Regions from separate parts of the Homo sapiens genome. Here region 2 is linked to region 1. The links come from fine-mapping of genetic effects on gene expression. A gene starts in region 1. The other region holds a variant in brackets. All regions are shown on one strand. Distances are between the middles of the regions.

What was found. PIP is the estimated chance that this variant, and not a neighbour inherited with it, causes the effect.
Region 2: its variant is fine-mapped to the expression of CLPTM1 in whole blood (INTERVAL, PIP 0.91).

Annotation. Positions count from the first base shown.
Region 1 is chr19:44,953,556-44,957,934 of GRCh38, reverse strand. It overlaps CLPTM1 (CLPTM1 regulator of GABA type A receptor forward trafficking), which reads right to left and starts at 2,555. Exons shown (of 14, transcript NM_001294.4): 1 at 2,468-2,555. The coding sequence starts at 2,539. RefSeq lists a silencer at 2,303-2,632.
Region 2 is chr19:45,139,494-45,143,872 of GRCh38, reverse strand. It overlaps PPP1R37 (protein phosphatase 1 regulatory subunit 37), which reads right to left. Exons shown (of 13, transcript NM_019121.2): 3 at 3,592-3,637; 4 at 3,267-3,367; 5 at 2,432-2,551; 6 at 1,662-1,812; 7 at 1,415-1,570; 8 at 240-352. Among named protein-coding and RNA genes, the nearest start is that of NKPD1, 19 kb to the left of the region's middle. The variant G/T (reference allele first, on the strand shown) is at 2,203.

The sequences.
Region 1 (4,379 bases):
GAACATAAGTGTAAGGGCCTTCAAGAGGGCAGCACCTATTTTATTCACAGCTGTATCTCCAGCATCAGCAAAGGCCTAGCATGGAGTAGACTCAATTCGCATTCGCTGAAGGAAGGAATGGCAAAGCTGTGGGTTCTGTGTCCGAGTTCCTGGCTACAGGAGCAGGCTAGCTAAAGCAGCAGACTGTGCAGAGGGTGTGCCTGCTGTGCACTAGGCCCTGGGCATGGGAGAAGGGTGGCAGTGGCTGTGGACACATCAGTGACTAAGACACAGTTCCTGCTCTCGGATCTGCACGTCCACGCACACACACAATCCCCAGCAACATCTGCTAAAGGGTCCAAGAAGTAGCTGAGACCACCAGGGCTAGGCAAGAGCAGGAGGAAGCTAGGTTTTGCGGCATGTCTTCACTGATTACCTGGATCCACCACGGCATCAGGGAATTCCACCTCAGCCCAGCCTCTGTTTCAAGATCCGCTCATTCCACAAACACTGAGCACCTCCTCTGTGCCTGGCGCTGAGCTGAGTGGTGCTAAGGAAGCAGTGGTGATCAAGGCAGTCCTGGCTCTGCCCTCCTGGGGTTCCCAGTCCCCAGACAGTGAAACCCAGTAGGGCAGGGCTGGGACAGCGGAGCCCAGACAGTCAAAGAGGGCTTTCTGCAGGAAGGGACATCTGAAATCTGTAGGACTAATACACATCAACTAGCTAAAGAGGGGAGAGACCTGTGCATAGACTATGAGGAAAGAGACTGAGAGGCAATAAAAGAGGTTTAGAAATAAAATAGGTTCAGAGCAGCGGATCCCCTTTAGCGCAGTTGTTCTCACGCAGGGATGGCTTTGCCCCCCTGCTCTTGGAACATTTGGCAATGTCTGGAGACATATATGGTTGTCACAACTGGGGAGGGGCGTGGATCCTACTGACATCTAGTGCGTAGAGGCCACGGATGCTGCTAAACATCCTAAAATGCACAGGGCAGCCCCCCAAACAAAGCATTATCCAATTCAAAATGTTGATAGTGCCGAGCTCGAGAAATCCTAGTCTAGTCTGAAGAAAAGTGTCGGATCGTGCAAGACTGTGATTTATTAAAGAATTTGTACTTTGTCCTAAAGGCAAAGGGGTAACTCTTGATTGTTTTTAAGCAGAGTTGGTACAAGAGAAGATCAGAGTGCCATCTGGAAGCTCAGGGCAATGAGAACAACCTGGGCCCTGGTCTCTCAAGCCACCATCAACCCAATAATCAACAGAAACCCAGAGGGGAAACGACCTCCTTTCAGCAAGACTGGGAAACCCTTGAAGACAGGAACTGAGCCTTCATTCCAGCACTAACTCAACAAACATTTCCTAAGCTGTCCCTGAAGCCAGGCCCTGGCTGAGAATGCTGAAAAGATTCAGAGCAGATACAGTGGGCTCTATCACACAAATTTCATCCATGTGTCCTACCCAAGTGATACCACTTGCTCTTTCTCTGGGCTCCCCCAGTCCCTGACACAGACTTTTGTCACCAACCTAATCATTCAGGATTACAACTGTTTACATGTCAGTCTCCTCTCTTCGTCCCCTGACAGCAGGGATATGGCTGGCCCTCCTGTCCAACCTCTGCATTTAACACGGGAGAGATAAAGGCCTAAAGAGGGAAAGGAACTTGCCCAAGGTCACACAGAGAGTCAGCTTCATTCTCCCCTCTCAACCCGCACTCCTTTCCCCTGAGCTGCCTCCCACATGTCAGTGACATCCCAGTGGGTGGGTCGACAGCACCTTCATGTCTCTCCATCTATTCCCCAAATGCCTGAACGGTAGCTGCCTGAAATGGTATGCTCTGCAGTGTGTTAAGACAGCAGTGGGGCAGAAGTCATCCGCACCAGGACTAATTAACCCATAGAACTATTTTACATTAAAACCACAACCATACCAGTCCCTGTGTCAGCAGTGTCTTGTAACTTCTACATAAAGTTACAAACCTAACCAGGATGACCTTCTAGAAGCGCCTTAGTCTCACTGTTCCTTGAATTCCCGTCTGTAAAATGGGTCTGTCGGCCGTGCCCTGCTAATACTGACTTCCCCACAGCTAGAAAACTCCCAATTAATCACTGCGCACACCTCAAACACTACAACGAGACCTGAACGCCAGACCACTCTAGGAACGGCCTCAGAGCATGGAATCGCGGAGTTGAGAACCCAGCGCGCCAAGGTACAAGCCTGCGCCCCTCCGAGCCACTGTCTCCCCGGATCGAGCAATGAGCCTGGTGGCCGCCCGGCTCGAGCGTGCAGGGGAACCGACCCGCAACAGGGCCCTGTTCCCGGCACCGTCCGGCCTCCCGGGCGGTCCGGCCCTGCCTGGGCCGGGTATTCAAGGTCCCTCTGGCCAAGGAGCCCCCAGTGCACGGGATTCCGTGACAAGAGGTAGGACACGCCCCGTGGGAGGCCCCCCGGCTGGGGAAGAACCCCCTCAGTCCCCTCTCGGCCTCCGTACCTGACCGGAGCTGCCTCCCCCGGCCGCCACCACGGCGCTGCGGGCCCCGTCCGCCTCCTGCGCCGCCGCCATCTTCCCGCTCCGGGTCCCCGCCCCCGCCGCCAGCCCCGCCCCGTCCCCGACTTCGCAGCGCAATCGCGCGAGATTTCACGCTTTCCTAGCCCCGCCGGGCCACCCTATCCGGCAAGAGTGCCGCAGCCACGCCTCTCAGGAAGGCCACTTCCGGCTATGGAAGGACCAACCTGGCCACCGTACTCGTCTTTCTCCCAGCCCGTTTGTTTCCACCTAATAAAAACACTGTATGCTCCGAACTCCAGGACTTTCTCGGCCAGCATGTGCCTCCCGCAAGTTCTGTCCCTTCCGTCCCTTCACATTAACCCGCCTTTTCGGTTATATGAGCCTTTCGGGACATCCTGTCCGCTTCTCCCTGCCGATTCTTCGCGTCCTTTTCGTTCCATGTTTCTTGAGCTTTACCGGCCACTGTACGGCTTCGAACCACGCCCCTCTTTCGTCAGAGGAACCTTTCTGGCCACCGTATTCTGATTCGAAGAACTAGCCTTTTGCCCAGCACCCTTGTCTTCTGACCCCTCTTCCTAAGACAACTCTTTCGTTCAAGTCTCCTGAGCTCATATCCTTTCTGTGTTTTTAGAGTTCCAATTCCAGGGGTCTTACGGCCAACAAACCTCCGATGAGACCCTATGATACACCCCCAAGCCTTCGGACTGCCCTGCCTAGCACGCATGCGCGTTCCCTCAGTGGTCCAAACCTCGCATCCGTGGGCTAGGCTTCACGGGCTCTGAGAATTCCACAATTTTTCATTAGCTGTGTGTCTTCGTACAGCTCTAAACCCGGCCATCTGCTGAGAGACCCTTAGTTTGGAGAGGGTGTTACGGAGGCCCAGAGAGGACAAGACTCTCAGAGGCTGTTAACTGTTCACCCGTGAAATTGGGTGGATGTCTGGCCAGGGTTCTAACCCTTGTGGTGCTACTGACTGGATAAGATATCCTGGACAAGTGACGTCTCTCTCTCTCTTTTTTTTTCTTTTTTAGACGGAGCCTCACTCTCCCCCAGGCTGGAGTGCAATGGCGCGATCTCGGCTCACTGCAACCTCGGCTCACTGCATCCTCGGCCTCCCGAGTAGCTGGGATTACAGGAGCACGCCACCACTCCTGGCTAATTTTTTTTTTTTTTTTGAGACGGAGTCTCGCTCTGTCACCCAGGCTGGAGTGCAGTGGCGCGATCTCGGCTCACTGCAACCTCTGCCTCCCGGATTCAAGCAATTCTCCTGCGTCAGCCTCCCATTTTTTTTTTTTTTTTGTAAGTAGAGACGGAGTTTCACCGTGTTGGCCAGGCTGGTGACAAGTGACATCTATGTTTGAGCCTCAGTTTCTCCCCTTTTATAAACCAGGGATATAATCGTACTCGTTCTTCGTCTTCCCGTTTTGCCCCGCTGTGTTATTGGGAAGACGTAGTTAGATGGCGAATGGAAAACATCAGGCCCTGGGCCTCATGCTTAAGTGGTCAATATTTGGAGCGCTGTGATTATGAACCTTATATATTACCTGGAAAAAGAGTAAGCTTTGCATTGGGATATTCTGAATATATAATTATCATTTTATTATCGGTTTCCTCCACTTTCCTCTAGGTCTCAGCCCTGTAACAGTAGCTCTCGCTCTAGGAAACTCTCTCTGAGCCCTTTTCCTATCCTCCCTTGCCCCCTCAGCTCCTCCACCCCATCCCTGCTCACTTTGTGTCATCACTGTCAGGGATGGGTGTGTCTCCCCAACTGGGCAGGCTGACCTGGGACTGTTGTGGTCACTGCTGTATCTCCAGCACTGCCCTGGGGATGATTGCCCTGGGGATGAGGCTCTCTAGGTGCAGAAGGTGAGTGACTTACCTCTCTGAGGGCTAA
Region 2 (4,379 bases), 190 kb before region 1:
GGTGACAGGATGAGACTCGGTCTCAAAAAAAAAAAGGAGATAATGAAAGAAGGGCTCCTCCTCAGGGAAAACAGGCACAGAAGCTGAATGAGGAAGCAGGTGGGGCTGAGTTTAAATCGTCTTGAACCTGCAGGATGGGCAGGACAGGAGCCGTCAGCTAGAGGCAACTGTGCTGAGAGCTGGAGTGGGAGGTGGCAGCGGGGACCGAGGTGCCTCCCTTCCCTGCCAGCCTGACTCACCAGTGTCATGCCCAGGAAGGCCATGCCTGTGTGCGTGAGCTGGTTGTTCCACAGCACCAGGGTCACCAGCCCCTTCCTCTGCTCCTTGAGGCCCTCGCAGATGTAGGCCAGACCTGGAGGAGGCCGGCAGTCAGAGCCCTGTCTGGGGTCCGGGTGCTTCCTGGGGAGGGGACTGCAGGGTAGGAGCAACCCCCTCTGCTTAGGACCTCCATGGAGGCCCCGCAGTCCCAGGCCTTGCCCTGCAGCCCTGCCTCGGCCTGGCACCCCTGGGCACACATCTGTGACCCCTGGGCCTGGGTGCCTGGATGACAGCCTCCACCAGATGCTTCTGATCTTTGCTCAAATGTGACCACCTCTGGCCCACCTCACCTCACAGCCAGCTCACTCCCACCCACAGTCACCACTGTCTCCCTCCAATGCAGATCCCACCATCTGACAGGCTGGAGATTTCACTCATCTTATCGTTGTCTCTCTAGACTGGAGTACAAACTCCCAAGGGCAGAGCCCTGTGTCTCCCTCCGAGCTGAGCCCAGGGGCCGACAGCCATGGCCCTTGGCAGGTGCTCAGTAGAGTGGGGTCTGGGCCTGCCACCTGGGGACACAGTGACCCACCCCACCCCTCCAGGATGCAACAGGAACGCCTCCTTTGACGGCTCCCCATTCTCTGCTCAACCCCCAGCATCAAACACCAGAGCTCCTCCCACTGCACTCACTGCTCCCGCGGTCTGGACCCTTTCCCAGGCTTCTCACAAGGCTGGTTCTGCTCCCAGCCTCCGGATGGAAGCCCAGAGGCCCCGCCCCACGGTGGTCTTCCCTCCTCTCCCATCTGAAAGCAGCCTCTAGCTGACCCTGTTATGGCAGCAACACTGCTTTCTTTTCAGATTGTAATTATTCACTTCGCCTCATCCTGCGGCTGTCAGCTGAGCTGTCTCCTCCTCCTGGAAGCCCTCCCTGGCCCCCAGACTGATCGGACCCCGCCTCTGGGCTCCACCAGCCCAGTCCTGCCCACTCTAGGTTGTCACTGTCTAGGGCGGGTCTGTCTTCCTCCTGGGAGCCCCAGCAGGACAGCGTTGGGGTGGTCTTGGCCATGTCTGTGTCCCCAGCACCACCTAGCGCAGGGCCGGGCAGAGTGGGTGCTGGGTGACGGGTGTGGGTGGGGTGGGCCACTGCACCCACCCGAGTCTAGCACGTGGTTGTTCCGGAGGTCCAGGATCTGCAGGGAGCAGTTGAACTTGAGCAGGTTACCCAGCTGGGCCGAGTCCTGCAGGCCGTTGAGCTTGTTGTCCGCCAGGTACAGCTCCCGCAGGTTCATGTTCATCTTCAGGGCCGTGGCTGGGGACGGGGAGGGGGCACGGTGACTGGGCAGGCCCCTGCCCCCCAACAGGCTGCACATCCTGCTCACCCTCCCGGGCTTGGGGCTCACCGAGCAGCATGAGGGGCCGCCCCGACAGGCTGGCGTTCTCCAAGTGCAGCACTGCCAGGCTGCTGCGGATGCGCAGGGCACGGGCCACGAAGGGCGCCGAGTGGTCCAGCAGGGGCGTGTTGCGGGCGTCCAGATACTGCAGGCAGCTCGTCTGCAGGGGCAAGAGGACAGGGGTGAGGCACTGGCTCAGGCCTGCCCCAGCACTCCCTGGCCCCAGGACCGCCCCAGCACTCCCTGGCCCCAGGACCTGTGCCCCCATGTCTCAATGAGCAACGAAGCCACAGCTGTCGTCTGGCTATGTCGCCTTGTTTTACAATGGGGGTAACTGTGGCTGGGGAGGGAAGGCTCAGCCTGGGGTCCTGTGGGTGAGCGAGGCAGGGCTGGTGGCAGCCAGGATCTCCAACTCCTGTGTGGCTGGGAGGTTACCAGATAGCCCCGTCCCGTCCCTCCACCCAGCCTTCACACAGGAGTGACGTGGGGATGGCGACCATGGCCACCTCCAAGGGGATGACATTACAGAAGGATGACATTACGGAAGGGA[G/T]AAGTTGGAGGTCATGAAATGCCTCGCAAGGAGAGAAGGGGCCAGGGGGCCTGGGGGCCAGGACACCTCTCGGCCCTGTTCTCCTGGCCTGAGGGCCAGGCCCAGCATCCCCACAACAGCCCACACTCAAGAGCTCATGCAGTCAGAGCCTACGGGCCATGCCCTGAGAAAGTGCCTCCCCGTGCTGGGAGCCTGAGCTGCCTCTTCCTGGAAGCCGAGAGGCGCCCACCTTGCGCATCATGTGGGCGGCCGCCTGCCAGCCCCGGGTGCCGATGTGCTTGTTGAAGGAGATGTTGAGGTGGGTGGCCGACTCGTAGTACTCGATCATGTCGAAGAGGGCCGAGGCACCCTGCGCATAGAGATTCGGGGGCTCAGCCTCAGCTCTGGGCTGCCCTGGAGGAGAGGCGTGGGCCCTGACACCGGGCCCCACCGAGAGACGATGGGTCCAGGGTCTGGAGAGAGCCACACGGGAGAGGAGGACAAGCACAGACAGGGCCCCGTGAGCCACGGGGACAAACCCTTTCCTTCTCTGCTGTAGTCAGTTTTGTTTTCTGTCACTTGCCCTCCAAAGTCCTTGACTGACGTGCTGAGTGACCAGGACAGGCCTTGGTGTTCCTGAGCCTGGGCCTCAGTTCTCCAGGTCCCCTGCCCCTGGATCCCGACACCTGGGGTGCCTGGGGACTCCCAAGGCTGAGGAGGTGAGGGCCCTTGGGCCTTGATGGGAGGCTGCTCTCAGAATGCTTCCCAAGCCCACCCTGTAGGAGCTGGACCCTCCAGCGTGGTTCCTGAAAGGGCTCCTGGGGGCCACACGCCTGCCCCTCAGCCCAGCTCCCTAAGGCTCTCCTTGCTTATGAGGGTGGGCCATAGGTGCCCCAACGCGCCCTCCACATCCACTCTGGTCATATTGGATGTCTCCCTCTTGCCCTGCAAGAGGCCCCGCCCTTGCGCCACCCCTCAGCCTTTGTCTAGGGGACCCCCTCCTCCTGCAGTGTCCTCTCCCCACCCAAACCTCGAAGGGGCCCGGGAGCTCAGGGAGCCAAGTGGGCGGTGGCAGGGCCGCTCACATCTTCATCCAGGTTTGTCTGCTCCAGGTCCACGACCTTGAACTGCAGCCTCTTGAAGACCTCTTCCAGGGCCTCACAGGTCTTGTAGTCAAGCTTCTCACCTGGGGGGAGACAGCAGCCGTGCGCATGTCTAAGACAGTGCACCTTTGCATGGCTGGAAGGGCCCTCTGCCCCCAACCTCCCACCCCCCACCAGGCCCAGCCCCTGCCCTGGCTGAGCTCAGCTCCAGAAGCCGCTAACCCCAGGCAGGTCCTCAGACCCAGCTCTAGGGAGCCCCCGACCTGCCCATGACCCAAGGGCTCTCAACCCCTAGCCAGACACACACCTTTCAGGTCCAGACAGTCGAGGCGGTGCCCGAGGTCTGTGAATTCCTGAGAAAGTAGAGTGGGGTTAAGGCAGGAAGACACTTGAACAGGGGGGCAGCCGAGGCCCCAAATGGCTGCTATGCCTGAGGTCAGGCAGGGTTCTGGGGTGGGGTTTGGGCGAAGGCACTGAACAGAGGCTCAGAGGCCACCCACCAGCTGGAACCTGGGGTACAGGGCCTTAGACAGCGAGAGAACTCTGCACCCACACAACTGAGGACCAGCCAGCACTGCAGCCAGGCAGGCCTGGGCGAAGCCCTCTGCCCCAGCGGGACCGAGTGAGGGAGTGGGCCCAGCATCTCTGGGTATGTCCCAGCAGAGGAGGGAGTCTGTGCAAAGGCTGTGAGGCAGGAAATGAGCCTGGGAAGATGGCAAGGCTGGGCACAGGAGGCTTCTTGGTGAAGGCAGGGCCTGGGGCCCAGCACCCAGTCAGAACCCACCGTCCCGCAGATGCCAGCACCCGCGCTCTGAGCTTACACACATCACCTGCAGGGTGGGTGCTGCAGGGCTGGTCTGAACCAGGCCGATGGGGTCCAAGGACCCACCCTCTCAGCTGCCACACTGAGCAGCCACCCTTCCTGGGACCTGACAAGCCCCTCTTCTGGAATGTTCCAGAGAACCTACCCTAACTCCAGTGAACACTGATGGACAAGGAGCGTGGTTGCTTCCAGCACAGCTGAGGGTACAACAGCCCGAGGACAGGCAACCCTGGAACCCTCGGAACGAGCGGTGCTTCACTGACTAGGCGCCA